Linked DNA regions of Homo sapiens. The protein of the gene in region 1 interacts with the protein of each later gene in a biochemical or structural test. Each region holds a gene or a part of one and is shown in the gene's direction. Other genes may lie near its edges. The genes, in order: TLK1, NDUFAF2, PTPN7, MEIS1, CAPRIN1, ENKUR and EGLN2.

Evidence for each region.
Region 2: the proteins of TLK1 (region 1) and NDUFAF2 form a complex in vitro, tested with the Homo sapiens proteins (one large-scale study listed by BioGRID).
Region 3: the proteins of TLK1 (region 1) and PTPN7 form a complex in vitro, tested with the Homo sapiens proteins (one large-scale study listed by BioGRID).
Region 4: the proteins of TLK1 (region 1) and MEIS1 form a complex in vitro, tested with the Homo sapiens proteins (one large-scale study listed by BioGRID).
Region 5: the proteins of TLK1 (region 1) and CAPRIN1 form a complex in vitro, tested with the Homo sapiens proteins (one large-scale study listed by BioGRID).
Region 6: the proteins of TLK1 (region 1) and ENKUR form a complex in vitro, tested with the Homo sapiens proteins (one large-scale study listed by BioGRID).
Region 7: the proteins of TLK1 (region 1) and EGLN2 form a complex in vitro, tested with the Homo sapiens proteins (one large-scale study listed by BioGRID).

What each region holds. Positions count from the first base shown.
Region 1 is NC_000002.12:171,049,176-171,053,414, reverse strand, and holds part of TLK1 (serine/threonine-protein kinase tousled-like 1), read left to right. Parts: intron 1-3,240; coding exon 3,241-3,351; intron 3,352-3,464; coding exon 3,465-3,601; intron 3,602-4,239. UniProt on the Homo sapiens protein: Rapidly and transiently inhibited by phosphorylation following the generation of DNA double-stranded breaks during S-phase. This is cell cycle checkpoint and ATM-pathway dependent and appears to regulate processes involved in chromatin assembly.
Region 2 is NC_000005.10:61,094,823-61,099,061, forward strand, and holds part of NDUFAF2 (NADH dehydrogenase [ubiquinone] 1 alpha subcomplex assembly factor 2), read left to right. Parts: intron 1-4,169; coding exon 4,170-4,210; intron 4,211-4,239. UniProt on the Homo sapiens protein: Acts as a molecular chaperone for mitochondrial complex I assembly. Complex I functions in the transfer of electrons from NADH to the respiratory chain. The immediate electron acceptor for the enzyme is believed to be ubiquinone.
Region 3 is NC_000001.11:202,150,170-202,154,408, reverse strand, and holds part of PTPN7 (tyrosine-protein phosphatase non-receptor type 7), read left to right. Parts: intron 1-85; coding exon 86-223; intron 224-558; coding exon of another isoform or gene 559-573; coding exon 574-684; intron 685-1,709; coding exon 1,710-1,867; intron 1,868-3,984; coding exon 3,985-4,098; intron 4,099-4,239. UniProt on the Homo sapiens protein: Protein phosphatase that acts preferentially on tyrosine-phosphorylated MAPK1. Plays a role in the regulation of T and B-lymphocyte development and signal transduction.
Region 4 is NC_000002.12:66,571,125-66,575,108, forward strand, and holds the end of MEIS1 (homeobox protein Meis1), read left to right. Parts: intron 1-121; 3' UTR 122-2,745; downstream 2,746-3,984. UniProt on the Homo sapiens protein: Acts as a transcriptional regulator of PAX6. Acts as a transcriptional activator of PF4 in complex with PBX1 or PBX2. Required for hematopoiesis, megakaryocyte lineage development and vascular patterning.
Region 5 is NC_000011.10:34,054,276-34,058,514, forward strand, and holds part of CAPRIN1 (caprin-1), read left to right. Parts: intron 1-4,239. UniProt on the Homo sapiens protein: mRNA-binding protein that acts as a regulator of mRNAs transport, translation and/or stability, and which is involved in neurogenesis, synaptic plasticity in neurons and cell proliferation and migration in multiple cell types.
Region 6 is NC_000010.11:24,995,190-24,999,428, reverse strand, and holds part of ENKUR (enkurin), read left to right. Parts: coding exon 1-28; intron 29-3,559; coding exon 3,560-3,783; intron 3,784-4,239. UniProt on the Homo sapiens protein: Adapter that functions to localize a calcium-sensitive signal transduction machinery in sperm to a calcium-permeable ion channel.
Region 7 is NC_000019.10:40,805,071-40,809,181, forward strand, and holds the end of EGLN2 (prolyl hydroxylase EGLN2), read left to right. Parts: intron 1-1,484; coding exon 1,485-1,604; intron 1,605-2,067; coding exon 2,068-2,204; intron 2,205-2,413; coding exon 2,414-2,481; intron 2,482-2,738; coding exon 2,739-2,794; 3' UTR 2,795-3,364; downstream 3,365-4,111. UniProt on the Homo sapiens protein: Prolyl hydroxylase that mediates hydroxylation of proline residues in target proteins, such as ATF4, IKBKB, CEP192 and HIF1A. Target proteins are preferentially recognized via a LXXLAP motif.

The sequences.
Region 1 (4,239 bases):
CTCCAGCCTGGCGACAGAGTGAGACTCTGTCTCAGAAAAAAAAAAAATTCTGTAGCTAGAACTCAATAAGCTTTTTCTGTTAGTTTAAGTACATGATTGAAAAATACCAATTTTAAAGTGAAATATTTTATTAGATCTTCAATAAATTGGGAATTGAGAAACTGTTGGAGAACTGGAAGTTAATAACATTTATATGACCAACTACCATAACACAAATAGCCATTTCATGTTAAAGTTTATTGATTTTATTATATGCCTGACATCTGATACCTATACGATGAAGTAACTGCTGCAGTTCTGTAGGATTTTTAATGGAAGCTTTATTTAAAAATACATCTAGAAGTATACTTAAGAATGTAAGGGTTTAAAGCAGCAGTTCTTACCCCTTGATGCTCCTTAGACTCACCAGTTGGGAAGGGTGAAAGTACTAATGCCTGAAACTCTACCCTGAGGGGTTCTGATCAAGTTGATGATGATGTAGGTCTTGGACATTGGTAGTTTTAAAGGCTCTCCCAGATAACTTTAATTTAAGACAGCATTGAGAACTACTGGTGTAGAAACTCGATAAAACCAACACCTGTGATCCTACTGTATTTGACAGTGTCTTTAAAACATCCAGTGTGTCTTTTTCCTGATCCTGTCATATTTACTTTCTCACACCCATTTACCATTTAACCACTATTTTAAATTTTGTATTTGTGATGCCTTGGTGTTTCTTTATGGTTGTATTAAATATGTGCTTACATTCTTCACAACATATTATTTCAGTTGGTTTTTGAACGTTAAGTGAAATTTTCCAGTATGGACCCTTTTGCCCAGCTTGTTTTCAATGAAATATATCAGAGAGTCATCCACTTTGATGAGTATAACTGTAGTTTGTTCATTTCATTGCAATATTGTAAGGTGTTACAAGTATACCATAATTTCTGTATCTTTTCTGCTTTTAGTTGACATTTTATTTCTACTTTTTCTAGTATAAACAGTTCTAAGAACATTCTTTGTACATGTCTTCAGGGCACATATGAAAGAATTTTTCTGTGGTATATGTTTAGGAAAGACATAGCCAGAGTACAGGGCATACGCATTTTCCATTTTACTGTATAATACCAGTTATTTCTCAAGGTTTTTTGGTCTGGTCTTTTTTTTCCCCCGCTAAGTGACAGGGTCTCACTGTGTCGCCCAGGCTAGAGCACAGTGGGGGATCATAGCTCACTGTAGCCTCAAACTCCCGGGTTTAAGCAATATTTCTACCTCAGGCTCCCAAGTAGCTAGGACTACAGGCTCATGCCATCACTCCGGGCTGATTTTTTTTTATTTTGTAGAGCTGGGAGTCTACAGGCTGGTATTGAACTCCTGGCCTCAAGTGATCCTCCCACCTTGGTCTCCCAAAGTGCTGGGGCTATAGGCATGAGCCACCATGCCCAGCTGATCTTTCAATATAAATTATTAGTCTTACTGAAATTGGTTTTGGGTATGGCATGATGTAGGGTTTCATTTCAATTTCTTTCTATATGGATAACCAGTTGTTCATCCCCATTTAATTAAAAGCTCATTCTTATACTGCCAGCTCTATCATCATAAAATCTTGTTTCCAGTATACAGGTGGATCTGTTTCTGTGTTCTGTATCATGTTTCCTTGTTCTGTTTGTGTCTCTACACAAGTACTGCAGCATCTTTTTATCATTGTTGATAAAACAATTTTTATCAGTTGTTTTTGGCTGTTAGTAACAGTGAACATAAATAACAGTACTTCAGATGAGATAGAAGCTTATTTTTCAAGAGAAGAACAGAAGTGGGCAGCTCAGATATTATTACTCCTCAGTATCATAAGGGACCTTGTCATTGTTAGTTCATGGCTTATATCTCAAAGGTCACATCAAGGTTCAATATATCTATTAGGGTCACAATTATATCTGTGTTCTAAGCAGATAACAGGAGGGAGGATGGGAGCAGAGAACACAAAGCACAATTCTGTGTGCAGCCTTCTTGGATATCTCATTGAACAACTTCTGCTTGCATCTCATTAACCATCCTTCGCTCTAAGGGAAGCTGGGAACTGTAGTCATTTGGCTAGGCAGATAGCAATCCAGGATAAAACATTGAATTTCCATTATTAAGGAAGGAGGAGGCTTGGGTGATCATAGTTATGTAGCTTTATGTTAAGTCATGATACATGGTTAAACAGATATCCTCTTCTTCTTTTTGGCTATTTTTGGCCCTTCACAGTCTTAGAGAAATTTTAGAATCAGGTTTCAAGTTGCATATGCATCATACACACACAGTGTTGAGATTTTGTTTGAATTGCTGAGGGTCTATTGGTGCTAAATTCTGTTTCCTCTTCCTTGAAAAACAACTGTGTTGGGTATCTAATTTTAGGTTGGCAATTCTTTTCTCTCAGCACTTTTAAGATTTTGTGCCCTTGTCTTGTGGATTCCACCATGGTTGGCCTAGACTTTTGATTCTCAAAGTGTGATCTTCAGACCAGGAGCATCAGTATTACTGGAGAACTTATTAGAAACGGAAATTTTCAGGTCCTTCCTGAGACCTGATTCAGAAGCTCTGGGAATGGTTCCCAGTAATCTGTTGTAACAAGCCCTATAGGTTATTCTCTTGCCACTGTACTAATCAGACTCATCTTTTGATGTTAGAAGGAAGCCTCTTCTCTGAGCATATGGCCACCTACAAAGTGAACAGAATTAGTATCCTATTGCTAAGGAAGAATGGTGAGGACAGTTGTTGGGTAGGCAACTTGTGTATGTCATTTATAAGTTCAGTGGAGAAAATATTTTGTTAGTTATAAGAGATAGAGGAAAACCCACATTTAATTTGTTAATTATAAGAGATAGAGGAAAACTCACATTTATTTTTAAGTGATAGACACTTTATATACCATATTTTAGTTATTTTTAACAAAGTGAGGTAGATTGTGTTGCTTCTATTTAGAAATAAGAAAGCTGAACTAAAGTTCTTATAACTTAGCCAAAGTTAACCTTAGAGTATGGATTTGAATGTATGGATATGGATACAAATTTCCCTGTATGTACTTTCCACTACACACTTAAGTAACATTTAACAGTATTATCTCATGGTTAAGTAGGCTTTTTTTTTTTCTCGTATCATACTCAGATATTTAATATTATTAGTCCTATCTGTATATAATTTATTTAGAACATTAAAACTATTTCTAAGCTTTTCATATTCCCCAGTCTAGACCTCTTGCATTTTCTACTTATGTCATAGGCTAACTGTGATCTCAGACGGCAAATAGATGAACAACAAAAATTACTTGAAAAATACAAAGAACGATTAAATAAGTGCATATCAATGAGCAAGAAACTTCTTATTGAAAAGGTAGGCTAAAAGTTGAGTAAATTTTCGCTTTCCCTTCATTAGCCCCTTTTGCTTTGTATGCTTTTATAAATTAATGAATACAATTGAGTGATGATTTTTTTTCTCCTTTTCAGAGTACACAAGAAAAGCTGTCAAGCAGAGAGAAGAGTATGCAAGATCGATTACGCCTCGGGCACTTTACAACAGTTAGACATGGCGCTTCATTTACTGAACAATGGACAGATGGTTTTGCATTTCAGAATCTTGTGAAGTTAGTCATTCTTAACATTTAAAAGTTTTTAGTATTCGTTTGGGTTTTCATTACTTTAAAAGATTATAGATTTGTAATTATGCTCTCCAGTTCCTCGCTACTCTGAAATCATAGAATTTAGTACCTTTGAAAGGGATATGAAACCAAGAGTATTACAGTTTTAGCTTAGTAATTTCTTGATTAATTAGCAGTCATCTATAGAATGTAATATATTATTCTAATTCTGACTTTCCGAGATATTAATTGAACCTTTAGCTTTACAGATGATGTTTTGAGAGGGAAATTGTTGAAAATTTAATTTTCACTGGAAGATTTGTGTGTGTGTTTATTTCCTAGGATTTTCCTACTTAGTTTTTTCCCATTCCCCAATCCTTACATGTTAATGTTCAGCACTTGCCTGCTCTCTATTCCTAAGGGAAAAAACTTCTCTTTTGCCTCAGATATAATAACTGATTTATCAGTTAAACTGAACATGTGGCTTTAGCGTTTCTGAGGTAAACTCTATTTATTATTTATTTATTTTAATTTCAACTTTTATTTTAGTTTCAGGGAATATATATGCAGGTTGTTACAGGGGTATATTGCTTGATACTGAGGTTCGGGGTACAATTGAACCCACCACTCAGGTAGTGAGCATA
Region 2 (4,239 bases), on another chromosome or scaffold:
GCCTGCGCCTTTCTCTGGGAGCTCCTTCCCAGGGAGATACAGACCTGTTGCCGGCCTGAATGCACTTGTAGGAGGGGGCTAGAGACCCCAGTTAGGAGGTCTCACCCATTTAGGAGGAACAGGATCAGAGACCTGCTTAAAGAAGCAGTCTAGCTATGCTTTCATAGAGCAGCTGTGCTGTGCTGGGATACCGCTTCCACCCCTGGTCAACTTGGACTCTCCAAAGCCCGGAGCCTGGAATGGCTATGTCACCGAAACAGCAAAGATGGCGGCCTAACTCTCCCTCTGGGAGCTCTGTCTCAGGAAGTTCTCAAATCTCTGTCAGCCTGAGAACATGGGCAGGGTGGCTGGAGGCCCCAGTGGGGAGCTCCTGCCCGGGGAGGAGGAACAGATCAGGGGGCCACTTTAAAGAAGCAGCCTGGCCACATTTTGGTAGAACAACTGTGCTGTGCTGGGAGATCCCTTTTGTTTCTGGTCGGTTTGGACTCTCCAAAGTTCACAGGTTGGAACTGCAGAGTTATCCAAACAGCAAAGATGGTGGCCCTTCCCTCCCCCAAGGAACTCTGTCCCAGGTAGGGGGCGACACTGTTGCCAGTGGTTGGCTGGAATTCTAAGCCAGTGGGTCTTGTCCTTTGAGGCACTGTGGAAGTGGGGCCTGCGGACCATCACTGCTTAGCCCCCTCGATTCAGCCTTCTTCCTAGGGGTATGTACAGAGGTCCAACCTCCTGCCTTGACAGAGCTGCAGTCACTATTGCCAGGAAGTGTGGAGCCTAAGTATGTAGAGCTGCGCCTCTGTGCGTGCCTGAGTGGCTGCTCTGCCAAGAGTCCACACAGCTCTGTGTCAGACCAAAGGCCCTGGTGGAGTGGGTTTAGGAGGAGATCTCCTGACTCAGGGTTGCAAAGATCCATGGGAGAAGCATGGTTTCCCAGGGTCACACATTTGAATACTCACCACTTCCCTAGGTGGGGGAGGTTCCCCTGGCTCCATGTCGCTCCAGGGTGGGCTGTTGTGCTGTCTTGCTTTTCTTCATTCTCCAGGGGTCGAGTTGTTTCCTTGATTAGTACCAATGCGAGTACCTGGATGTTTCAGTTGAAGGGGCTATATTTACTCGCCCCTTTGGTTGCTCTCCATGAGAGCCACGTACCCTAGCTGTTTCTAGTCGTCCATCTTGGCCTGAATCTAAGTAACTTTAATTTGGGCCATAAAGAGGCAATTGAAAAATTCCCAAAGTCACTTATTTCCTTGACTACACAAAGGAATTGTGGTATTGCTAAGCTGGATTTTCTAATAAAGATCAAAATCCTGATAGAACAAATATTTTTCAAAATATTCATTCAATAATTTTTAAAGTACCACCTCTTTTATAGCATTTAAAAGAGTAAATACCCCAAAAGAGTAGGTACTTAAAATGACAGAAAAATAAATCTCCCATGGGTACCTCCTGCCTTTGACAACCTTACAGACTCACAAGGGAGATTAAAACCTTTGCAAGTTGGCCAGGTGTGGTGGCTCACGCCTGTAATCCCAGGACTTTGGGAGGCTGAGGCGAGCAGATCACGAGGTCAAGAGATCGAGACCATTCTGGCCAACACGGTGAAACCCCGTCTCTACTAAAAATACAAAAATTAGCTGGGCGTGGTGGCGAGTGCCTGTAGTCCCAGCTACTCGGGGGGCTGAGACAGGAGAATTGCTTGAACCAGGGAGTCGGAGGTTGCAGTGAGCCAAGATTGCGTCACTGCACTCCAGCCTGGCAACAGAGTGAGACACCATTGCAAAAAAAAAAAAAAAAAAAAATCTGTACAAGTTTTGGCTAGAAATTGGCCAAATAGGAGTAAAAGCTAATAGAAACAGAATACAGGCTGGGTGCAGTGGCTCACGCCTATAATTCCAGCACTTTGGGAGGCCAAGGTGGGAAGATCACTGAAGGTCAGGAGTTCAAGACCAGCGTGGCCAACATGGTGAAACCCCATCTCTACAAAAAATACAAAAATTAGCTGGGCATGGTAGCGAGCACTTGTAATCTCAGCTACTTGGGAGGCTGATGCCAGAGAATCACTTGAATCCGGGAGACAGAAGTTGCAGTGACCTGAGATCACACCATTGCACTACAGCCTGGGTAACAGAGCGAGACTGTCTCAAAAAAAAAGAAAGAAGGAAACAGAATGCAGAAAGAATAACAAGGGTAGAAATTTAGAAACAGTAGTAGAGAATGGAGAACACTGGAACTGTATTGGAGATACATGTAAGGGATAAGTGCAAGAGAGAATAGAGCAGGGGGAAATGACTGATCCCAAGCCCGCAGTTGAATGTTGCTGTTTCCACCCCCACAAACCATTCAGTGCTGGGCTTTTTATGAAGACAAGTCCTGGTGCTATTACAGATGATCCTTGGTTTGCAGTGAGGTTATGTCCCAATAAGCCTATCATATGTTGAAAATATCATCATGTAGAAAATGCATTTAATACACCTAGACTACTAAACATCATAGCTTAGCCTAGCCTACTTTAAATGTGTTCAGAACACTTACATTAACCTACAGTTGGGCAAAATCATCTAACACAAAGCTTACTTTATAATAAAGTTTTGAATAACTTATGTAATTCATTGAATAAGTACTGAAATGAAAAACAGAATGGTTTCATACCATGGTAAAGTCAAAAATCCTAAGTCAAACTACTGTAAGTCAGTGACAGTCTGTGCCTAAATGAATAAGGCTGGCTGTTAGAGCTGGTCACAAGAGATAGTGGCTGGTGAATGGATAAAGCTAAGACTTTAGAGCCAGTTCAACCAGGGTTTAATTCCCAGTCGCTAATTATATGGCATTAGGAAAGTTTCTTAATCTCTCTGGGCCTCAGTTTCCAAATCTCTAAAATGGGATCAATAATTCTTATTTTTCTAACATGTAGTTAGGGTCACACCTAGCCTGGCTTTCTCTTTCTGGTTTAATATTCTTTGCATGTTGTTCATAAACTTTGAAAGACTGCTTAGTTGAGCGTGGATGGTTTTTAGAGCCAGAGACAGGGTCAGATCTGAATTCAAATACAACCATTACTACTTAATGTATAAATTTGAGGAATTCATTTTATTTCTATTTCTTCAATTTTGTAGTGAAGAGTGAATCAACTGAAATGATAAAACAGTGGCCTTCAAGATCATATTCCCTACAATATATTTTCTCACAGTCTCCTATACAACATTGCAGGCTAAGCAGATATTATTGATCTTTTGTTTTTTGAGTCTTATTTTTAAGAGATTTATTGAATAATAGTAATAATTATACTAATAACTTAGACTTATGTGCCAGGCTTCAAAGTAAACATTTATGTATATTATCTTATATAATTTTCACAACAACCCTGAAGTGTAGATACTTTTATAATTTCCATTTTATAGATGGGAAGCCTGATGCTTAGAAAATTAAATAACTTGCTCCAGGTGACACAGACAGTAAGTGATGAAGCTGGGATTTGAACCCAGAAAATCTGACTTTAGAATCTCATAAGCACTATACTATACTGTCTTCCATGTGATTCTGATAACTTCCCTAAAGGCAGCTGCCCCACTCCCTTCCCATTGCTGCAAAGCATCCAGCACAGTACCCAGGCCCCAGCAGCCACTTAACAAATGTGGGCTCTATCTCTGCAGCCCATCTGCCAAGTGTTAGAGCTAAGGCCTGATGATATTTTTGCTTGCTGGAGCAAATCAGAAAAGAAACCTCTGTAAATGAAAAACTTTTCTAAGTCCCTTCCTTTATAAATTGAACAGTAACTAATTCAAATTTCCAGAATAATATAATTTTGATATTGTCTTGAAGTTTGCTGTATTTTGGTTTGGCTTGTATGCCATAAATATACCCAGTCGAATTTAGATGATTAGGAGGTATGATTTTAAACATATGAAACTGTCCCCTCTTTATCTTCTCTACACTATTATATTCTCTTCATGACACATATCACCACCAACCATATGTTTGTGTGTTTATTTTCTGCAACCCCTTCAGTAGTACATGTGCTACAGTAGAGAAGGGACTTAATCTGTTTTATTCCCTGCTGTATCTCCAGTACCTAAAATAATATGGAGTAGGTACTCAAAAAAATTTGTTTTATGGATAAAAATGTTTGTGTAAATTATGGGAAACTGACATTTAAATATTATTTTTCTTTCTAGCTTGGATTAGAAGAACAAGAAAGACTCCACCTACTATGGAGGTAAGACTACACAAGGAGGATATCATTTA
Region 3 (4,239 bases), on another chromosome or scaffold:
ACCCCAGCACCTGAGGCATCTAGGATCTCCCCAGAGCTCTGCTCTCACTGCTCCCCACCCCTTCCCCTGTGCTTCCACCTTCCAGGGCTATGACGGGAAGGAGAAGGTCTACATTGCCACCCAGGGCCCCATGCCCAACACTGTGTCGGACTTCTGGGAGATGGTGTGGCAAGAGGAAGTGTCCCTCATTGTCATGCTCACTCAGCTCCGAGAGGGCAAGGAGGTAGGAGGCAGAGCCACAGTTCATGATGAACCCAGAAAGTGCTATGCCCACCCCACCCCCACCCCACACACAGGGCAGCTCAGAACCAGAGGTTTCCCTGGGAGCCAGCCCCAGCTCATACCTCTCAGAAAGTTCCCTGAGATATAGCCCTGGGAGGCTGTCTATGGCCAAAATACGGGATAGGGTGAGCACTCTGCTTGCAGGTATCAAGCTCAGAAGAGCCAGGCTCCCTGTTGCTGACCTCCCATCCAGTAGGGGTGGAGGATGGGGAGGAGATACCAGCCCCTCTCTGCTGCCCTGTCACCTGCTCCAGCTGACCCTCTTCTGACTCCCAGCTCCCTCCCTCCTAGAAATGTGTCCACTACTGGCCCACAGAAGAGGAAACCTATGGACCCTTCCAGATCCGCATCCAGGACATGAAAGAGTGCCCAGAATACACTGTGCGGCAGCTCACCATCCAGGTACCACCCCCCCGGAGCCAGGCCCAGTGGGAAGTTGGGCCGCCCACAGCATCTCTGGGACTCAGGCTGGCTCTTCACTAGGAGCCAAGGGTTTGCTCTTCTAAACCATCTTAAACCCACATCTATAGCAGAAAGAGAAACTTGAGCACTGTCCTCAGCCTCTAGTCTAATAGGGCAGAGCCAATAAGCCAAATAGGACTACCGGGAAGTACTCACCCATCTGTGTAAATGGTCAGGCGGGGACAGGCAGGATCCAGGAGCAGGGCCAAGGGAAGGAGAGGAGGTTAAAGGAGATGTGGAAGGCCAGGTGTGGCGGCTCATGCCTGTAATCCCAACACTTTGGGAGGCTGAGGGGGGCGGATCACTTGAGGTCAGGAGTTCCAGACCAGCCTGGCCAACATGGTGAAACCTTGTCTGTACTAAAAATTACAGCTGTTTGGAAGGCTAAGACAGGAGAATCACTTGAACCCAGGAGGCAGAGGTTGCAGTGAGCCAAGATTGTGCTACTGCACTCCAGCCTGGGTGACGGAGTGAGACTGTCTGTCTCAAAAAAAAACAAACAAAATAAAACAAAAAAAGAGAAAGAGATGTGGAATAACATGTACACAAGGGCTTTTAAAATGCCTTCTATTATTTTATGGTGTTTTATATTTTTGAAAGCATTCCTCTATCAACTCATTCTCCTCCAAATATCCTGGCAAGTAAACCAGTAAGATATCACTGTTCCCATTTTCCAGGTGAAGAAAATGAGATCAAGGGACTTGCCCAAAGTCATGTGCTTATGGGAAGCAGAGCCAGGGCTTGAATTTGGGTCTCTCCCCTCTCCCAGGACAATGCTCCTTCCCGGGATTTTGAAGGGGGAAGTGGTGGAGAACAATGAGCACGAAAATTGCAACCTAGCTTGCTTTGAGTAGATGACCCCCCCACAGGGTAATTCCAGCCCTTGCCCTCCTCAGGCACCAGAGAAGAAGGTAGACAGTGCCCTCCACCCTGACCTTGGTTCTCATGCCTTGTCTCCAATCCAGTACCAGGAAGAGCGCCGGTCAGTAAAGCACATCCTCTTTTCGGCCTGGCCAGACCATCAGACACCAGAATCAGCTGGGCCCCTGCTGCGCCTAGTGGCAGAGGTGGAGGAGAGCCCGGAGACAGCCGCCCACCCCGGGCCTATCGTAGTCCACTGCAGGTGCGTGGCCCTCCCTTCACTGCAGCCTGTGGACTGTGCTCCCCTCCCCTGCCCCCTGGGTCTCTCCTGGGGAAGGGTCTGAGCAGAAAAGCATCAGGCAAGCCTAGTCCTTACTCAGACATGACTCGCAAGGCCATTCAGCAAGGGCTCTGTTCTTTTTACCTCCTTCACGCAGAACCCAGACATCTGGGCTGGACACCCAGGCCCCATCCATAGAGGGGATGGAATATCAGGAAGATCCCAGTCAGCTGCAGGAGGACATAAACAGGATTCCAGCTGTTGGGGAACTCATTTACTTATTCAACAAATATGTATTGAAAATCCTATTATTGGCCGGGCACGGTGGTTCACACCTATAATCCCAGCACTTTGGGACGCCAGGGCTGGCAGATCACCTGAGGTCAGGAGTTTGAGACCAGCCTGGCCAACATGGTGAAAACCTGTCTCTACTAAAAAATACAAAAATTAGCCAGGCGTGGTAGCACACACTTGTAATCCCAGCTACTTGGGAGGCTGAGGCAGGAGAATTGCTCAAACTCTGGAGGCAGTGAGCCGAGATCACACCACTGCACTCCAGCCTGGGTGACAGAGCGAGACTCCATCTCAAAAAAGGAAAACCTATTTTTGTCAGGCACGGTGTTAGCTGCTAAGGAGACAGCTATGAACCAAGCAGTTTGGTTTCTTCCCAGACAGTTTTATAGGCTGGTGGGAAAGAAGGCAGATTAGGCTGGGTGCAGTGGCTCATGCTTATAATCTCAGCACTTTGGGAGGCTGAGGCGGGAGGATCACCTGAGGTCGGGAGTTCAAGACCAGCCTGACCAACATGGAGAAACCCTGTCTCTACTAAAAATACAAAATTAGCCACACATGGTGGCGCATGCCTGTAATCCCAGTTACTCGGGAGGCTGAGGCAGGAGAATTGCTTGAACCCAGGAGGTGGAGGTTGTGGTGAGCTGAGATCGCACCATGGCATTCCAGGTTGGGCAACAAGAGCAAAACTCTGTCTCAAAAAAAAATTAAATACCACGCAATGTGATGAGAGCTGTGATGGGGATATTATGGGGACCATAGAACCAAGTCTCCTAAACCAGACTTTGACCAGAGAAAGTTTTCCAAGAGAAAGGCCATCTAAGCCAAGCTAAGACCTGAAAGGTGAATTAGCCAAGTGAAGAGAGGGAAGGGAACACGTTCCAGGCAAGTGGAAGAGCACATGCTAAGGCCCAGAGAAGAAATGTGAAAATGGATACACTGCTGGGAGCAGGGTTACAGGTTAGGCCCAGAGGTTGTGTGTGGGGTAATGATGAGAGATGGGTTTGGAAGGCCAGTGAAGGTCAGATGATGAGGGGACTTGGAGGACTGGCTAAGACACTTGGATTTGCCATTTTAAAAGAACACTTTGGCTATAGAGTGAAAAATGGATTGGGCCAGAGTGAGGGGGTGTCGTAGGGGACAAGACTAAAGAAAGGGACCATTTGGGAGTGCATATCCTAAATAAAACAGAGCACAGAGGCAAAAGGCATGACACAGGGGCCTCCCAGCCCACCCACAGGTAGCACTGGGACATGTGCAGGGAGGTCATTAGGGGCTCACGCAAGAGGAAGGGGAGGCCTAGGGGGTTTTGAAATAAAGAGAGGGCACGATAGAGAAAGCAGAACAGAGTGGAGAGAAGACTGTGGGAGGGCGCCAAGGTGGGAAACAGAGGGGCCGGGCGTGGGCTGCGTGGAAGATGAGTCTGAGCTGAGAGGAAGTCAAGGTTAGATAAGGAGGGCTCGAGGGTCAGCACACCCACAAGTGGGAAACTGTCTGTTGGAAACCACTGTAGACTCAGCAGAAGGGAGATCGTCAAAATGTCCACAGGGACCAAAAGGTGGCCTGCAACAGGCTTACAGTAAGGCTGGTAAGAAATGTAAACTCCTCCCATGCCAATTAAAACCTGCCTCCAGCAGGGCCCCCAAGGGGACTGGAAAGCAGAGTACTGCTACCTGCCTCCATCTCCAGAGCCCTATCCCCAAAATATAGCACCTGCAGGTCCCATTTCTTTCTCCATAGTTTGGGGCCTGGCTCTCATATTCCCTGGTCTCCCATGACCTCCCTGTCCCCTCCCTGGCTATCTCCAGTGCAGGGATTGGCCGGACGGGCTGCTTCATCGCCACGCGAATTGGCTGTCAACAGCTGAAAGCCCGAGGAGAAGTGGACATTCTGGGTATTGTGTGCCAACTGCGGCTAGACAGGTGGGTCTGTGGGTGTAAACAAGGCCAACAACGTTAACGGATGGCATCAGTGCCTCTGGGCCCCAGAGTTCTGCTAGGCCCATCACCATCAAGCACTCCTGCAAGAAAGGAAGAAACCCTTTCTGCTTAGAGCTGTTTATT
Region 4 (3,984 bases), about 100 Mb from region 1:
CAAAACCATGTTCCCTTAATCACAGGGTTCTCTGGCTTTTATAGGATTGTCATAGCCAGGACCACACTATTGCTTTTTCATAACATTTTCTTTTTGTTTCTTTCTTTTGAATTTCTTACAGGGCTGCAAAGTATGCCAGGGGAGTATGTAGCCCGGGGTGGTCCAATGGGTGTGAGTATGGGACAGCCAAGTTATACCCAACCCCAGATGCCCCCCCATCCTGCTCAGCTGCGTCATGGGCCCCCCATGCATACGTACATTCCTGGACACCCTCACCACCCAACAGTGATGATGCATGGAGGACCGCCCCACCCTGGAATGCCAATGTCAGCATCAAGCCCCACAGTTCTTAATACAGGAGACCCAACAATGAGTGGACAAGTCATGGACATTCATGCTCAGTAGCTTAAGGGAATATGCATTGTCTGCAATGGTGACTGATTTCAAATCATGTTTTTTCTGCAATGACTGTGGAGTTCCATTCTTGGCATCTACTCTGGACCAAGGAGCATCCCTAATTCTTCATAGGGACCTTTAAAAAGCAGGAAATACCAACTGAAGTCAATTTGGGGGACATGCTAAATAACTATATAAGACATTAAGAGAACAAAGAGTGAAATATTGTAAATGCTATTATACTGTTATCCATATTACGTTGTTTCTTATAGATTTTTTAAAAAAAATGTGAAATTTTTCCACACTATGTGTGTTGTTTCCATAGCTCTTCACTTCCTCCAGAAGCCTCCTTACATTAAAAAGCCTTACAGTTATCCTGCAAGGGACAGGAAGGTCTGATTTGCAGGATTTTTAGAGCATTAAAATAACTATCAGGCAGAAGAATCTTTCTTCTCGCCTAGGATTTCAGCCATGCGCGCGCTCTCTCTCTTTCTCTCTCTTTTCCTCTCTCTCCCTCTTTCTAGCCTGGGGCTTGAATTTGCATGTCTAATTCATTTACTCACCATATTTGAATTGGCCTGAACAGATGTAAATCGGGAAGGATGGGAAAAACTGCAGTCATCAACAATGATTAATCAGCTGTTGCAGGCAGTGTCTTAAGGAGACTGGTAGGAGGAGGCATGGAAACCAAAAGGCCGTGTGTTTAGAAGCCTAATTGTCACATCAAGCATCATTGTCCCCATGCAACAACCACCACCTTATACATCACTTCCTGTTTTAAGCAGCTCTAAAACATAGACTGAAGATTTATTTTTAATATGTTGACTTTATTTCTGAGCAAAGCATCGGTCATGTGTGTATTTTTTCATAGTCCCACCTTGGAGCATTTATGTAGACATTGTAAATAAATTTTGTGCAAAAAGGACTGGAAAAATGAACTGTATTATTGCAATTTTTTTTTGTAAAAGTAGCAGTTTGGTATGAGTTGGCATGCATACAAGATTTACTAAGTGGGATAAGCTAATTATACTTTTTGTTGTGGATAAACAAATGCTTGTTGATAGCCTTTTTCTATCAAGAAACCAAGGAGCTAATTATTAATAACAATCATTGCACACTGAGTCTTAGCGTTTCTGATGGAAACAGTTTGGATTGTATAATAACGCCAAGCCCAGTTGTAGTCGTTTGAGTGCAGTAATGAAATCTGAATCTAAAATAAAAACAAGATTATTTTTGTCATGCTGACTCCACTGCTTGAAAAATTTGTTTACTGCCCCCCAGATTTTTAAAGATTAATACAGTAAATATAAAAATTAATTTTGGCTCCCTAAGCCATATATGTATTTGACAATTTTAACCGCAAAGTAAGTTGTTTAATAATAACCACTGATTTCTTTAAGCTGACTTAATGAACTCCTAATATCAGCAAATTTGAGGCCTAAAGGCACTAAACTAACTCTAGACTCAGAATTACATCCAACAGAATTACTCATCTAATATCAGTGAAATTATTCTTGCACATAAAGGCAAACCTAAGTACAAAGTTAAGTCTTTTACTAAAGGATGTTACCTAGGATGAGCAGTATATGTTTATTAGGAAATTAACTACATGAATTGAAGAGACCAGACTTCAAAATCTAATTTTTATAAATATGCTCTATGTTCTCATTGGATAAAACTGGTTATTAACCAATTTTCCAGAACAGCTGTACAAGATTTCTGCATGGCAGCCGGCTAAATGGTAGAAAATAATATGTTTAAGCTGGAATAGCTTATAATTTTATTTAAATAAAATTGCTGCTATAAAAAGTGCTTCCCAAAGCTAAGGAAAATATACAAATATTTTAATTAAGGCAAATTCGTTTTAAAAAATAAGCCTTTCAGTAGTGATTGCTTTGTAAACAAAGGATGGGTCGGAGGAGAGAGAGCCTTAAACTCAAGTCTGACATTCAGGCCCAAGTCACCCTATAAACCGGCCCTTAGCAATTCTATTTTCTATTCGAAAAGAGAAACCAGCTGTGGGTTGGCTTTACTAGGTGATGTGTGATTGACTGACTCACCTGCTGGAGTAGCAATGCATTCTCACCTTTTGCTGATGGGGCCTTGTTTCTAAACACGTGGATGCGCAGAGAGCAAGGCTCAGCCTACTGCAGCCATCTCTGGCAGCGCTTCTACCCCTCCCCAGCCCATAGATGGGATTGTTTAAATCTCCCTTGTTGACCTAGTGGCAATTCTTCCTCTACCTAAATAGTCGATGTGAGTGAAATCATTCTCTTTTGATAGGTGGTTGCTAGCAGTTAACAACCATTTATTTACTTTAACAATTAATAATAAACTTTATAAACTGTCTATTTGCTCCTCCTCTCCAGTACATGCCCGGGTGAGTTGGTTATTTTCAGCCTTTATTCCTGAGGAGGCTCAGGATGGGTGGGGGAGGGAAAGAAAGGGGAGGAGGTGTGGTGGGGAGAGGGAGAGAGGCGAGAGGGAGAGACAGAGAGAAAGAGAGAGGCGCTAGGGGAGGGAGGTTTACAAGTGAAGAGTAGTTAGGGAATATGGTGACTCTGAAGAATCGAGATCAGCAGTGTCCAGGAATTAGAAAAAATAAACTGCTATTTCCGTGAGTTCCCCCTCTGTGAGCCATTTAGGTGAGAGCCTCGCTCTTCGCAGTTCCTTTCTTCCCCTGCCTCGATGCCCTCCCCTCTTAATGCTATTTTAGCTTTTCCTCTTGTAAATTTCAGAGCCAGCTCGAAGGTTATTGAGGACACTTATCCGAAAGAGGCAAATAATAGAGGTGCTGAGAGTGTTTTTGATGTTTCCTAAAAGGCAAAAACAAAACGCCCTCCTCTAAACAAGGGCACAAAATTGTACCTGGTTTTTATTTTTATTTGGTGGTGGGGGGGTGGGGGGGTGGGGGGGGGGTGGAAAGGGGGCTGGCTCTGGCTGAATGAGACTACTTTTTAATATGATTTAAATTTTTTTTTCAAAAAATTAAAAATATTTTACCCTATCATATTTAATCAGCTGTAATTATAACACATTCAAAATGAATAATATGCCTTGACAGTATTTTTATTGTTATTGTTCATTGCATGATGTTCGACTGCTTTAGAAGCACAGGAAAGAGAAGTAAACGCGCTACAAATGGGGAATTACCCTCGTTTAGCATTAAAATTCATTTAGATAAAATTGCCACAAACATTTAAATGGGAAGATTAGTTCCCCCTCACGCCTTATTGCACTCGCTCAATGGTTCCGTTAAGAACATTTTACACGTTGGAAATTCCGTCTTCTCAGACGGCTTGCTGTTTCCTAGTTACCCACATTCAAAGCAAAGGCAGCAGCAAAGGCAGCCGCAGCAGCAGCAGCAGGGAAAAAAAAAAAGTTTTGGCAACTGGTCTGCAATTCATCCGCTGCTCGCCCCAGTCTCCCCTCCGCCCGCTGCAGTCTGCCCCCACCCCTTCCCCTTCCCCACCCCTACCTCTTTCCCCTCATTATGTAATTCGCAGAGTCCAGTCCTCGAGGAAACACGTTGCCTAGTTGTGTAGTATTTATATACAATGTTAAAATACAAAGAAAGACCCTAAAGTC
Region 5 (4,239 bases), on another chromosome or scaffold:
TTGGAATAGTAAATGTAGTTACATCAAGAAAGTAACAAAAGTATTTTAAGTGTAAGGTAGCTACATTCAAATGTTGAATGGAATAAGCATGCCCAAGGCCAGTATCTTCTGAGTCTGACACATGATTTAGTTTACCCTGTTGGGTATCTTCTTAAATTTTTTTTTTTTTGAGACGGAGTTTCGATCTTTTTGCCCAGGCTGGAGTACAATGGCGCGATCTCAGCTCACTGCAACCTCCACCTCCCGGGTTCAAGCGATTCTCCTCCCTCAGCCTCCCAAGTAGCTGGGAGTACAGGTGCCTGCCACCACGCCCAGCTAATTTTTTGTATTTTTAGTAGAGACAGGGTTTCACCCTGTTGGCCAGGATTGTCTCGATCTCTTGACCTCCTGATCCGCCCGCCTTGGTCTTCCAAAGTGCTGTTACAGGAGTGAGCCCCTGTGCCCGGCCTCTTTTTAAAATTTTAATGCAGTAAGCAAGCCTGCTGATCTGGCTGCTACTTGAGTTTTTGATTCTTTAGAATTTCTTGGAAATGTTTTTTTCTAGGACAGTAATTGAACATAAAATATTAATGATTGTGAACATTAATAATGTGTTAATACTAATTATGAACATTAATGATTAGTGATATAAAGTGTAGAGACATTAATGACTGAAAGATAACTCCTCAGAGAAGTTAATATAAAGGTAGGTGCTGATTGGCAGCCAATTTAGTTGTGAGGTGGCTGTTAGAATCTAGTGTTCAAGTACTTCTGAAAAAAAAATATAAATCTAGTTTATAAGCCCCTCCTGAGGACTTGAACCATGACTGGTCATTAAATGTGTATAGGTGTATGTGAATTACTATACTCTGTCATACCCTACCCTCAAGTGATTTTGTTATTTTATTTTTATTTTTTGAGATGAATCTCTGTTGCCCAGGCTGGAGTGCCCAGGCTGGAGTGCGGTAGGATGATCTTGGCTTCCTGCAACCTCCACCTCCCGGGTTCAAGTGATCCTCCCGCTTCAGCCTCCTAAGTAGCTGTGATTACAAGTGTGCGCCACCACCCCAGGCAATTTTTTTTTCTTTGAGAAGTCTCGCTCTTGTCCGCCAGGCTGGAGTGCGACGATGTGATCTCGGTTCACTGCAACCTCCGCCTCCTGGGTTCAAGCGATTCTCCTGCCTCGGCCCCCCGCCCAGAGTAGCTGGGGTTACAGGCACCTGCCACCACGCCCAACTAATTTTTGTATTTTTAGTAGAGACAGGTTTTACCTTGTTGGTCAGGTTGGTCTAGAACTCCTGACCTCAGGTGATCCAGCCGCCTCGGCCTCCCAGAGTGCTGGGATTACAGGTGTGAGCCACCATGCCGGGCCTCCCCTAAAGTCATAAAGGAGAAAATAATGTAATTATTACATAGGTTATTAACTAGGCTAATACATACTGAAAGATTGCCGTGTTAATAATGGAGATTCAACAAACTGCACAAAGTAACTTTTTTTTCTGTCTTCTCAGTGTTTTAAGTGGTAGATAGCAGCAAAAAGGTCAAGTTACAGTTAAGTCTTGAGACTTTGATAAGCCACAGACTGAACTCTACCTACATGTTAAGTAGTTAAGTTGGCAGTATTGATGTTGACTTAATTGCTATTAAAACTATATCTTTTGCCCTTTGAAAAACCCAGGGCATTTGGATTTGCCCTAAATTTAAGCACATCTGGTTTTTAGTTTAAATCCTTTTTATATTTAGATGATTTACTTGTGAGAAGACTTAACTGTTTTTAAGTATAAGTGAGCATTTCTAATGCACTAAAATAGGATTGCTTTACAAATCAGTTTTGAATTCCTCTTTAGAAACCCTTGTGGAGTAAAGTGAGGTACTATTTACAATTAGATTTGTTTTGACTTCAGTCCATTTAGCAACTTACATTTGAGCTTTATTTCAATCTTGACCTATTCTTATCGGAGCCTTCTGGACCAAAATGCTTTTTTTATGGATTTTAAAATCAAATATCCTGGCAAAAATGACTATGGATATGTAGTATTGCTTAAATTAAAACAGAGAATTGAAATAATTTTATTGTACTTTAAAAAACAAAGTTGTTTATTTCCTAATAATTTGAGCCATTAAAGAAAAAGCTAAGCATCTGCTCATTGAGAATGCATGCTCTTAATGTTGATGAAATATGATCGTGTTATGTAATGCAACTAAAAGGCTTGGTGGGTTTTTAAATTCAGGCTTATAAAGAGTACATGAATGTTTAGCAAAGAGAAGAAATACAGCTGTGATAATCAAGTGTAAAATCCATTTGCAAATCTTACAGGTAATATTGAATTGAATGATTAACTGCCTAGTTTTCTTTATCAGTTCATTGGTGCTGAACTGGGCCCTAGGCTATGCAAGATATTTCAAAACCAAGTCTTAATTTTAACTGAAGAGAGACCTCATTTGATATTATTAGATGTAATCAGTTGTGATATAGAATAAAGGATGTTTTAATAGATGACATTTAAAATTGTTATATTCTTTGTGAATATAATAGGTTTAGACTCTAGTGACTTTGGTAGGTGAAAGATTAACTAATGATCACTTGCGTAAAATGCAAAAATAGCCTGACAGCTTTTTAACCACTAAGTGACCAAAACTGATAGCCAGAAGTGTAGTGTTTTTAATACTTTTTCCTGAAGGCTTTCTGCACTTCATCTTTGCAGTTAGTAGTATTCTTTAAAAAGAATGCTGTTGTTGTGAGGGTAACATTTCTTTCTAGAACGTTGCAGTGTGTCTGTGCTTAGAATTTTCATTGCAGCTGTTGTGCAGAACTTATGTGTTCAGTGTTTTAAAATAAAAACATTCTTAACTATTTTATAAGTAAAATCTTTCCTTGAGGCTATTACCTGAAGCCTTCTTTGACATTTAAGATCTCTTGATGTGTTTGCTTTTCCATGGGTTGCAAGAACTATTCTTCTGCAATGCAGAGGGCAAGATTATTTTGCATTCACCTTGTCATAGAAAAAAGCTGTAATGCTTAATTTGTTTCCCTTTGCTTGACTGTGTGTGTTTGTATGTGTAGCACTGGGAAGTATTTAAAGCTGTGAATTCCCCCAAGTGATAATGGGTACCTTTTTCTAGGGTGAGAGTCGAAGCCTAAGTATTACATTGAGAATGTATTGTTTTAACGTGGCCAAATTAGTGTACTCTAGGATACTACCCATGTGGCAGATATTTGAGAATGCATTTTGTGTGACTTACAGATTAAGCATACAATTTGCCAAAATTTTATGTAATTAATTTCCTAGTTTACATTTAGGGCTAGATGAAGACTAGTACTGTTTCATCTTTTAGAAAAACTAACACTTTTCCTTTAGTAAAAGTGTTAATTTTTGCAATACTTTTGCAAAAGGTTAAACTTATAGCAATTTTGTCATAGCTATAATCTTACACTGTTATAAAATTTAGAGGATTTTTAATTTTTATTTATTATCATTATTTGAGACAGTTTTGCTCTCGTTGCCCAGGCTGGAGTGTAATGGCATGACCTCGGCTCACTACAACCTCCCCCTCCCAGGTTCAAGCTATTCTCCTGCCTTAGCCTCCTGAGTAGCTGGGATTACAGGCGCCCGCCACCACGCCCGGCTAATTTTTTATATTTTTAGTAGAGATGGGATTTCACCATGTTGGCCAGGCTGGTCTCAAAACGCCTGACCTGAAGTGATCCACCCACTTCAGCCTCCAAAGTGTTGGGATTATAGGCATGAGCCACCATGTCCGGCCTAAGAGTTTTTTTTTAGAGCTTAAACCACCTTAGAATTTAGTCCAGTTCATTTTATAGAAGACAAAATTGAGATGTTTATATGGAATGACTTAGGTTGGAATGGGTGATTTCCAAAATTCTCGCAGTTTTTTTTGAAACAGAATCTTGCTCTGTCGCCCAGGACTGGAGTGCAGTGGTGCAATCTCAGCTCACTGCAACCTCTGCCTCCTGGGTTCAAGTGATTCTCATGCCTCAGCCTCCCGAGTAGCTGGGATTACAGGTGCATGCCACCACGCCCAGCTAATTTTTGTATTTTTAGTAGAGACGGGGTTTTGCCATGTTGACCAGGCTGGTCTCAAACTCCTGACCTCAAGTGATCTGCACGCCTTGGCCTCCCAAAGTGCTGGGATTACAGGCGTGAGCCACCACACCCGGCCTCTTAAATAATGTTTTATGGGAGTAATTAGAATTTGTAATGTTCCACGGCCTAAGTGTAGTTTTCATGTTTAATTATG
Region 6 (4,239 bases), on another chromosome or scaffold:
CATTCAAAGGAAAAAACTCTACCACCCAGTAGGTTTTATCATGCTTTATTTTTAATATTAAAAGCATTAGCAGGTGATTTAACTATTATTTTATTGTTGATGAATATTAAACATGCACAGGTGATAGCAGCTTTACCTCATATTAAACAGAATTTGACTAGGAGAAAGTGGAAGTAGAGAATTGGGTAGAAAAATAGAATGGAGTGTGATAAATTGCCCCCAGAATAGACTTTAGATTGGGTTTGGACTATCCAATGAAGCCCACATGCATCACCATCTTAGTCCCTAGCTGTGGGGCTTCAATTATAAACAACAATTATAGGAAAAGTCAAGACCCCAGGGACAGTATCTGACTAATGGGCAAGATTGCCCAGCATCTAAACCCTGTCTGGCCTTTTCTCCAAGAGATGAAAATTACAACCATTACTACCAGTTGTTGAAGCAACTACTGGGCTCATTTTGAGTACGGGCTTTTACTCTCCCAGACCTTTAAGACTAACTGGACTGCAATGAGTTAGATGTAATGGAGGAGACTTCATGAATAAGTGGTAGAACCAGCTTAGGGCCCCATGCTTATTTTAATGCTGTGCTCTTGCTGTACTAAAATTTTTAATTTTTGATCAAGTAGCCTTGTGTTTTTATTTTTTACTGGGCCTCAAAAATTATATACTTGATCCCAGTTATGGAGTCTTTTGAATGATTTCAGGAAAGAAAGCTATCAGGGAAAGGGAGAGTAGATGAAAAGTGATGTGTGACAGGTATGTATGGAAGCAATTTCTTCATAGCCCAAGTATGTCTTCCCAGATGTCTTAGGGCAATAAAGAAAAGAGAGCACCTGGGCAACAAAGCAAGACCCCGTCCGTACAAAAAAATTAAAATAAAAAAAATTAGCTAGGTGTGATGGCATGCACCTGTAGTCTTCACTACTCTGGAGGCTGATGTGGAAGGATCGCTTGAGCCCAAGAGTTCGAAACTGCAGTGAGCTATGATCAAGCCACAGCCTTCTAGCCTGGACAACAAAGTGAGACCCCATCTCAAAAAAAGAAAGAGAGAGAGAGAGAGAGAGAGAGGAAGGAAGGAAGGGAGGGAGAGAGGGAAGGGAGGGGAGGGGAGGGGAGAGGAGAAGAGAAGAGAAGAAAAGAAAAGAAAAGAAAAAAGAAACGAGTCTGTCTCTTCAAAATGTTGGCTTTTTATGTCTGCTGGCATTGAGGAAATAATGCAACATCTCAAGCCCGGCTAGCGATGTACATTTTAACAAAAGTGAAACTACTTCTCTTTATGGCAGTATTTAATGTCCCCAAATCCTCTCTCAACCCATATCTCATGAAAAAAGGTGAGGGCACTATCAGGCAAGATGGCAAGATGGAAGAAGCAAGTGTGGAAATACAACATTCATGCTTAATTCGTGACTTCAGAAGTCTCTTTTGTATCTTCCTCTAGTCTTGGCCTGTTGTGACCCAGCATTCTATGACCAACAATACCATTTGAGAATATAGGAAAATGTTAAAATGGAATTTGATGCTTTCAATGCCTTAGGACCACTGGTATCCCTTGGGTCCTCATATAGCCTCTCTAGGGTTAAACATATGATATAACACAAACATATATATATATATATATAAATCCTTTGTGTCAAATAAGAAAAAAGGAAGAAGCCTATCATTTTGTAAACATTGTAAGGCAAAAGCAAACCCAAAATTTCATTGGCCTTTAGAATAATTCATCAATTCAGGGTATTAGGGCTGGGCACAGTGGCTCATGACTGCAATCCCAGCACTTTGGGAGGCCAAGACAGGAGGACTGCTTTAGCCCAGGAGTACGAGACCAGCCTGAGCAACAAAGTGAGACCCTATCTCTATAAAAAATTTTTTTTAATTAGCTAGGTGTGCTGATGCACATCTGTGGTCCCAGCTATATGGGAGGCTCAGGTGGGAGGATCACCTGAGCCCAGGAAGTTGAGGCTGCAGTGAGCTATGATTGCATCACTGCACTCCAGCCTGGGTGGCAGAGGGAGACCCTGTCTCAAAAAAAGAGGAAAAAAAAAAAAAAAAGGAATGCAGGGTTTTGCAAAAGCTTTAAAAACTCGGTCCAATGAGAGTTCTGGAGGACAGTTCTGGAGAACTAGGAGTCCAACATCAAGATGTCAGAGGATTAGTTGATTTTTGCTTTTCTTTTTTAGGAGTATTTTTGTTTGTTTTTATTTTTGGAGATAGGGTCTATGTTGCACAGGCTGGAGTGTGTGGTGGCTATTCACAGGCATGATGAAAGCACACTGCAGCCTCACACTCCTGGCTTCAAGCAATCCTCCTGCCTCAGCCTCCCAAGTAGCTGGGACTGCAGGCATGCAACACCACACGCAGCAGGGTTGGTTTCTTCTAAAGCATCTCTCATTGGCTTGTAGATGGTTATCTTTTCTCTGTATCTTTACGTGTTCTTCCTTATATGTATGTCTGTGTTCAAATTTCCTCTTCTAAGGACACCAGTCATATTGGATCAGCGCCTTCTCTAATGACCTCATCTTGACTTAATTACCTCTTTAAAGACCTTTCTACAAATACAGTTATATTCTGAGATACTGGGGGTTAGGGCTTCAACATATGAATTCTAGGAGGACATAACTCAGCCCCTAACAAGAGGCTAATCCAGTTCATAGACTTTTAACTGTAAGTATTGGCTTTGCTGATAATAAAAGTTATATAAACTAATAAAAAAGGTCAAATGATGCAGAAATGAATAAAGTCAGTCCTTAGTAATTGTGATGGGGTTAAAATTGGAAAAGGCATTTTCAAGACAGTTGTTGCTTTCAGTTCTTAAAAATAAATTATTTCACATTTTTGCATTGTGGCAAACCATTTGGCTATATTAAAATAGATCAATGGGAATGATCAAACTGAAGAGGCTGTGTAAAAACGGCCAATAAGCAAGAAATACTTCTTCCTTGTATTTATATACTGTTCATATATATATATATACACACACACACACACACACATATATGATCTTTTTTGAGACAGAGTCTCACTCCGTCACCCAGGCTGGAGTACAATGGCATGATCTCGGTTCACTGCAACCTCCGCCTCCCAGGCTGAAGCAATCCTCCCACCTCAGCCTCCTGAGTAGCTGGGACTAAGGGTGCACACTATCATGCTTGGCTAACTTTGCATTTTTTGCAGAGATGGGGTTTCACTGTGTTGCCGAGACTGGTCTCAGACTCCTGAGCTCAAGCGATCTGCCCACGTCACCGTGGGCCACCGTGCCCGGCCTCCTCAACATATTAATTGATTATGTTGCCCTTAATTTATTTCCATTTTAATTACTGACTTTTTTTCTTTTTAAAAAATTATTTTATTGAGGCCTGATTGACAGGTAAAAAGCTGTGCATATTTAATGTCTACAAGTCAATGAGTTTGGGGGTAAGCATAAACTTCTATCTTAAATATTTAAATATATTATGACTGCAACTTCAATATACAAGTGGTGAAATATCTGGATATTATAAATAGCACTGAGTAGCAGTGTTTGTAGTTTAATATTAACAAAGAAATGTTATATTTAACAGAAAAAAACTTTGATCGGAACGTGCCCAAAAAGCCTGCTGTGCCATTGAAGACTGATCATCCTGTCATGGGAATACAGAGTGGAAAAAATTTTATAAATACAAATGCAGCTGATATCATCATGGGAGTGGCTAAAAAGCCTAAACCAATTTATGTTGATAAAAGAACTGGAGACAAGCATGATCTTGAGCCTTCAGGACTAGTTCCAAAGTACATCAATAAAAAGGTAGCCTTGTGGTATATTAATAAGAGGGCTGAAATTCAAATAATTTAAATATGGTGTTCATGATGATCATCTATGTTATCATTATTAGTGCTCTCATTGGACACATTGTCTACTTTGCTGATTCTCATTCTTCTGCAATCTGTGTTTGGTCCAAATGTAATGGGATGAAGTTACAAAGAACCCATAGTAAACAATTCCATATAGTTCAGTAGATAAAAGTTATTGTTTTCCTTAATTTTGATTATTAACATATTTAACAATTTTAATAAACATTCTCTGAAAGATATTTTTGGTTAGTTGGAAATGTCACTAAAAGCAGTCATTACTGTAAATCTAGAAGGAATAAGCTGTCAGATGGTCTTAAGATTTAGTCATTAATTGCAGTAACTTGGCAGCTGAATAAGAAAAATGAAGCAGAATGCAGCTTTAGAGCCATCCATCTCATCAGTGTAGTAT
Region 7 (4,111 bases), on another chromosome or scaffold:
GTGCTTGGCAAGCATCCTGTTGTGGCAGTGGCCACTGATGTTTGATCGTGAATGTTTATCTTGGGACTGTCTTGCTGGGCCGGGCCCATAGGTGTAGCTGAGCATTCGTGGGGAATGGACGCCAGCAGAGTTGTACCAGGGCAGAGAGGTCAGGGCAGAGAGGTCAAGACAGATGGTCCGGGCTGGGGAGAAGTTGAAGGGTCCTTGTGCCAGTCCTCCCCTTTTTGTGTGCTACCTCATCTTGCCACTGCAGTGACTTTGGGCAGAGGGTGGGACAGGGACCTTTTAAAATTTTTAAATGGCATTTCAGCCTGTGCTCCAGTTCTCCATGTGGCAGGCACTGTGCTGGCTGTCTTCCCAGACACTTGTTATCTTGTTCACTTGTTCCACAACAACCTGTGAAATAGCTGTGAGCTCCATTGGATCCATGGATGAGGAACCTGAGACCAGGAAGTCACCTGCCTGATGCCACAGCTCATGTGGCAGCACTGAGACTTGAACCAGGGAATTGTGTCTGCAGAAGTGGCTGGGCCATTTCCTTTACCTCTCAGCCACCTTTCTGCCAGCTCCCTGATGACAAACATCCCGGGGCCCTGGCCACAGCATTGTAGGGCTGGGTCAGGGGAGTGGCAACTGTCAGGCAGAGGAAAGAACCCTGTAGACAGAGAAACCAAGCCCTGCAATGAGTCCTGTTAGATCTCCAGGAGTTGGGGCTCCAGAACCTCCCAAGTTATGTTCTCAGAGAGATTAATTGCTACCGCTGTAAACAGCAGTGTTTATTACCCCTGCTGTACACATCAGGCAGTTGAGGCCCATTCAGGTGTTGGAACTGGCTAGGGTTACCCAGCAAATTATCCTTGGAGTTGGAATTAGGTCTTTCTATTCAGACTGTAGCTTTTGGCTCCTGTTCGGAGGTCTATGGGACAGATAATTTAGTGGGGATTCTTTGTAGTCCAGGGCAGCAGTTCTTAACATTGCTGCATGGTAGAATTACCTGGGAAGCTTTACCAATTTCAGGCCCTTCCTTAGGCCAGGTACTTCAGAACCTCAGAGCTCCCCAGGGGGCTCCACTCCACAGCCAAGGGTAAGAATTCCTGGTCTAGGGCTGTGAGGCCACCTCCTTGCACACCTGAAAATGTTTAAATTGGTATTATTCTACTGAAATGGCTGAGGTGGGGTTTGGGGTATCTTGAAACAAATCAAACTCTGTTACTAATTGAGCCCTAGCTGGGTGCCAGGCCCCAGGTATGTGTGTTGGGAGGGAGTGGGCTCTTGAGGCCCAGGAGCTGAGGTTTCTGATAGACTTGGGGATGGGATTTTGGCTGAAAAAGAAAGTCTTTTGGGGCAGGAGCTTGGAACCCTTGACCCAAGGAGTCATGGGGAAGATGGGGCAAGGAGGGGTGGGAAAATAGGTAATTCATGGCTGCTTCTCTAAGATGTGCCTGCCTAGCCCCAGTAAACCTACCTCCCTCCATCCCTGCCAGGCCATGGTGGCGTGTTACCCAGGCAACGGGCTCGGGTACGTAAGGCACGTTGACAATCCCCACGGCGATGGGCGCTGCATCACCTGTATCTATTACCTGAATCAGAACTGGGACGTTAAGGTAGGGGTGAGGGTGAGGGTGAGGGTGGCGCTGGGGCTAGGGCTGGGGCGGGGGTGGCGTGCGTCCACTCCATTTTCCACTCTCAGCCCAGATTCTGGCATTCTCCTGTTTCTCTTCTCAACACACAGCGGGCAGTGCGATCTGCCGGCTCTTCCTGGGAAATGGCACCTCCTCCTCTCTAGCGGACTGTGTGGTGGGAACTCCCCTCTTTCCGGGAATGGTGCTGTCTGCCCAGCCCCACCCGGCCTTGTAATGAACACTTTCCCCCTTTTCCTGTCTTTAGTAGCTTCCTGCCCATCTCCATGGTGATGCAGTCTCTGGGTTGTCATTCACTTTGAGAGCCCGAGGGGTGGGAGGGAGTGATGCAGGCAGACGCTGCGCCTCCTAGTGGGCTCCCGGGGCACCGTGGGAGGCAGCGGCTCCTGGCCGTACCAGCTAGCCTCATCCTTTGGCCTGCCCCCAGGTGCATGGCGGCCTGCTGCAGATCTTCCCTGAGGGCCGGCCCGTGGTAGCCAACATCGAGCCACTCTTTGACCGGTTGCTCATTTTCTGGTCTGACCGGCGGAACCCCCACGAGGTGAAGCCAGCCTATGCCACCAGGTATGACCTGTACTTCTGGAGACGCACCCAGGTGCTCCCCCTGTGACAATGTCCTGTCAGAGCCTCAGAGTGACTAGGGAGCGACGAAGTATTGAGAGGGGGCCTAGGTGGGAGCAGAACCGGGTGGCTCAAAAGGATGGCCGCCTAGTGTGTGTGGATATGGTAGCTGGAATTGCAGAAAACTAATGTCCAACCACCCTGGTCTCCAGGTACGCCATCACTGTCTGGTATTTTGATGCCAAGGAGCGGGCAGCAGCCAAAGACAAGTATCAGCTAGGTACCTGCTTCCCTCCCTTCAGTCCTTCCTATTCTGTGGGCCCTCTTGGGCCTGATGCCACCCCATCCCCCTCATCAGCCTCTTGTTAAATCCCACCACTCATTTTTCTTCATCTCTGCCCACCTTCCTTAGCCCACTCTCCTGGTACCCCAACAGGAGCCCCATTTCTTCCTGGTCCTCTCCCCATCTCCCCAGGTTTCCCTTGGCTTCTTTGTCCTTCTGATGACTCACTGTCTCCTGTCCCCTCTCACCCCCAGCATCAGGACAGAAAGGTGTCCAAGTACCTGTATCACAGCCGCCTACGCCCACCTAGTGGCCAGTCCCAGAGCCGCATGGCAGACAGCTTAAATGACTTCAGGAGAGCCCTGGGCCTGTGCTGGCTGCTCCTTCCCTGCCACCGCTGCTGCTTCTGACTTTGCCTCTGTCCTGCCTGGTGTGGAGGGCTCTGTCTGTTGCTGAGGACCAAGGAGGAGAAGAGACCTTTGCTGCCCCATCATGGGGGCTGGGGTTGTCACCTGGACAGGGGGCAGCCGTGGAGGCCACCGTTACCAACTGAAGCTGGGGGCCTGGGTCCTACCCTGTCTGGTCATGACCCCATTAGGTATGGAGAGCTGGGAGGAGGCATTGTCACTTCCCACCAGGATGCAGGACTTGGGGTTGAGGTGAGTCATGGCCTCTTGCTGGCAATGGGGTGGGAGGAGTACCCCCAAGTCCTCTCACTCCTCCAGCCTGGAATGTGAAGTGACTCCCCAACCCCTTTGGCCATGGCAGGCACCTTTTGGACTGGGCTGCCACTGCTTGGGCAGAGTAAAAGGTGCCAGGAGGAGCATGGGTGTGGAAGTCCTGTCAGCCAAGAAATAAAAGTTTACCTCAGAGCTGCACACATCTGACTCCATCTGCAATTTAGGGCCTTTATTGACCGAGGAGGGTATGGAGGTTTGAGGGCCAGTGAGCCCACCATAGTGGAGCCTGACCTCAGCAGGCCACTGGCTGGAGCTGGAAGTCTGGGGGGACACTGCCCAGGCCAGTGCACTGCAGGTGAGGTTGATGGTGCCAGGGCGTACCACAGGGAGCAGGCAGAACCTCTGTAAGGTGGCCGTAAGGAATAGGAAGATACCCGAGTGGGCCAGGCCTGTGCCCAGGCACATCTGCTTTGCCGGGTACACAGGTGCACAGTGAGCACCAGGTACCCCAGAGCCAGTCCAGGCTGGTCCCCTTCCTCCTCTGCCTGCACCTGAGGCAAAGGGCATGAAAGCATCATTGCCCTGGAACTTGCCCTTGTCCAGGAAGTTGGTAGGGTTGAAGCAGTCTGGGTCTTTGAATTGAGTGGGGTCCCGGTGTGCAGTCACAAGCAGGGGAATCACAAAAGTGCCCTGGGGATACATGCAACTTGGGTTACCTGCGGGCTTGGTGAGCACCTGCACCACCTCCATCCAAGACGCTTTTTAAAAGCCCAAGGGAATAGGCCGGGCAAGTAGCTCACGCCTGTAATCCCAGCACTCTGGGAGGCTGAGGACAGATCACTTGAGGTCAGAAGTTCGAGACCAGCCTGGCCAACATGGCGAAACCTGTCTCTACTAAAAATACAAAAATTAGCCAGGCGTGGTGGTGGGTGCCTGTAATACCAGGT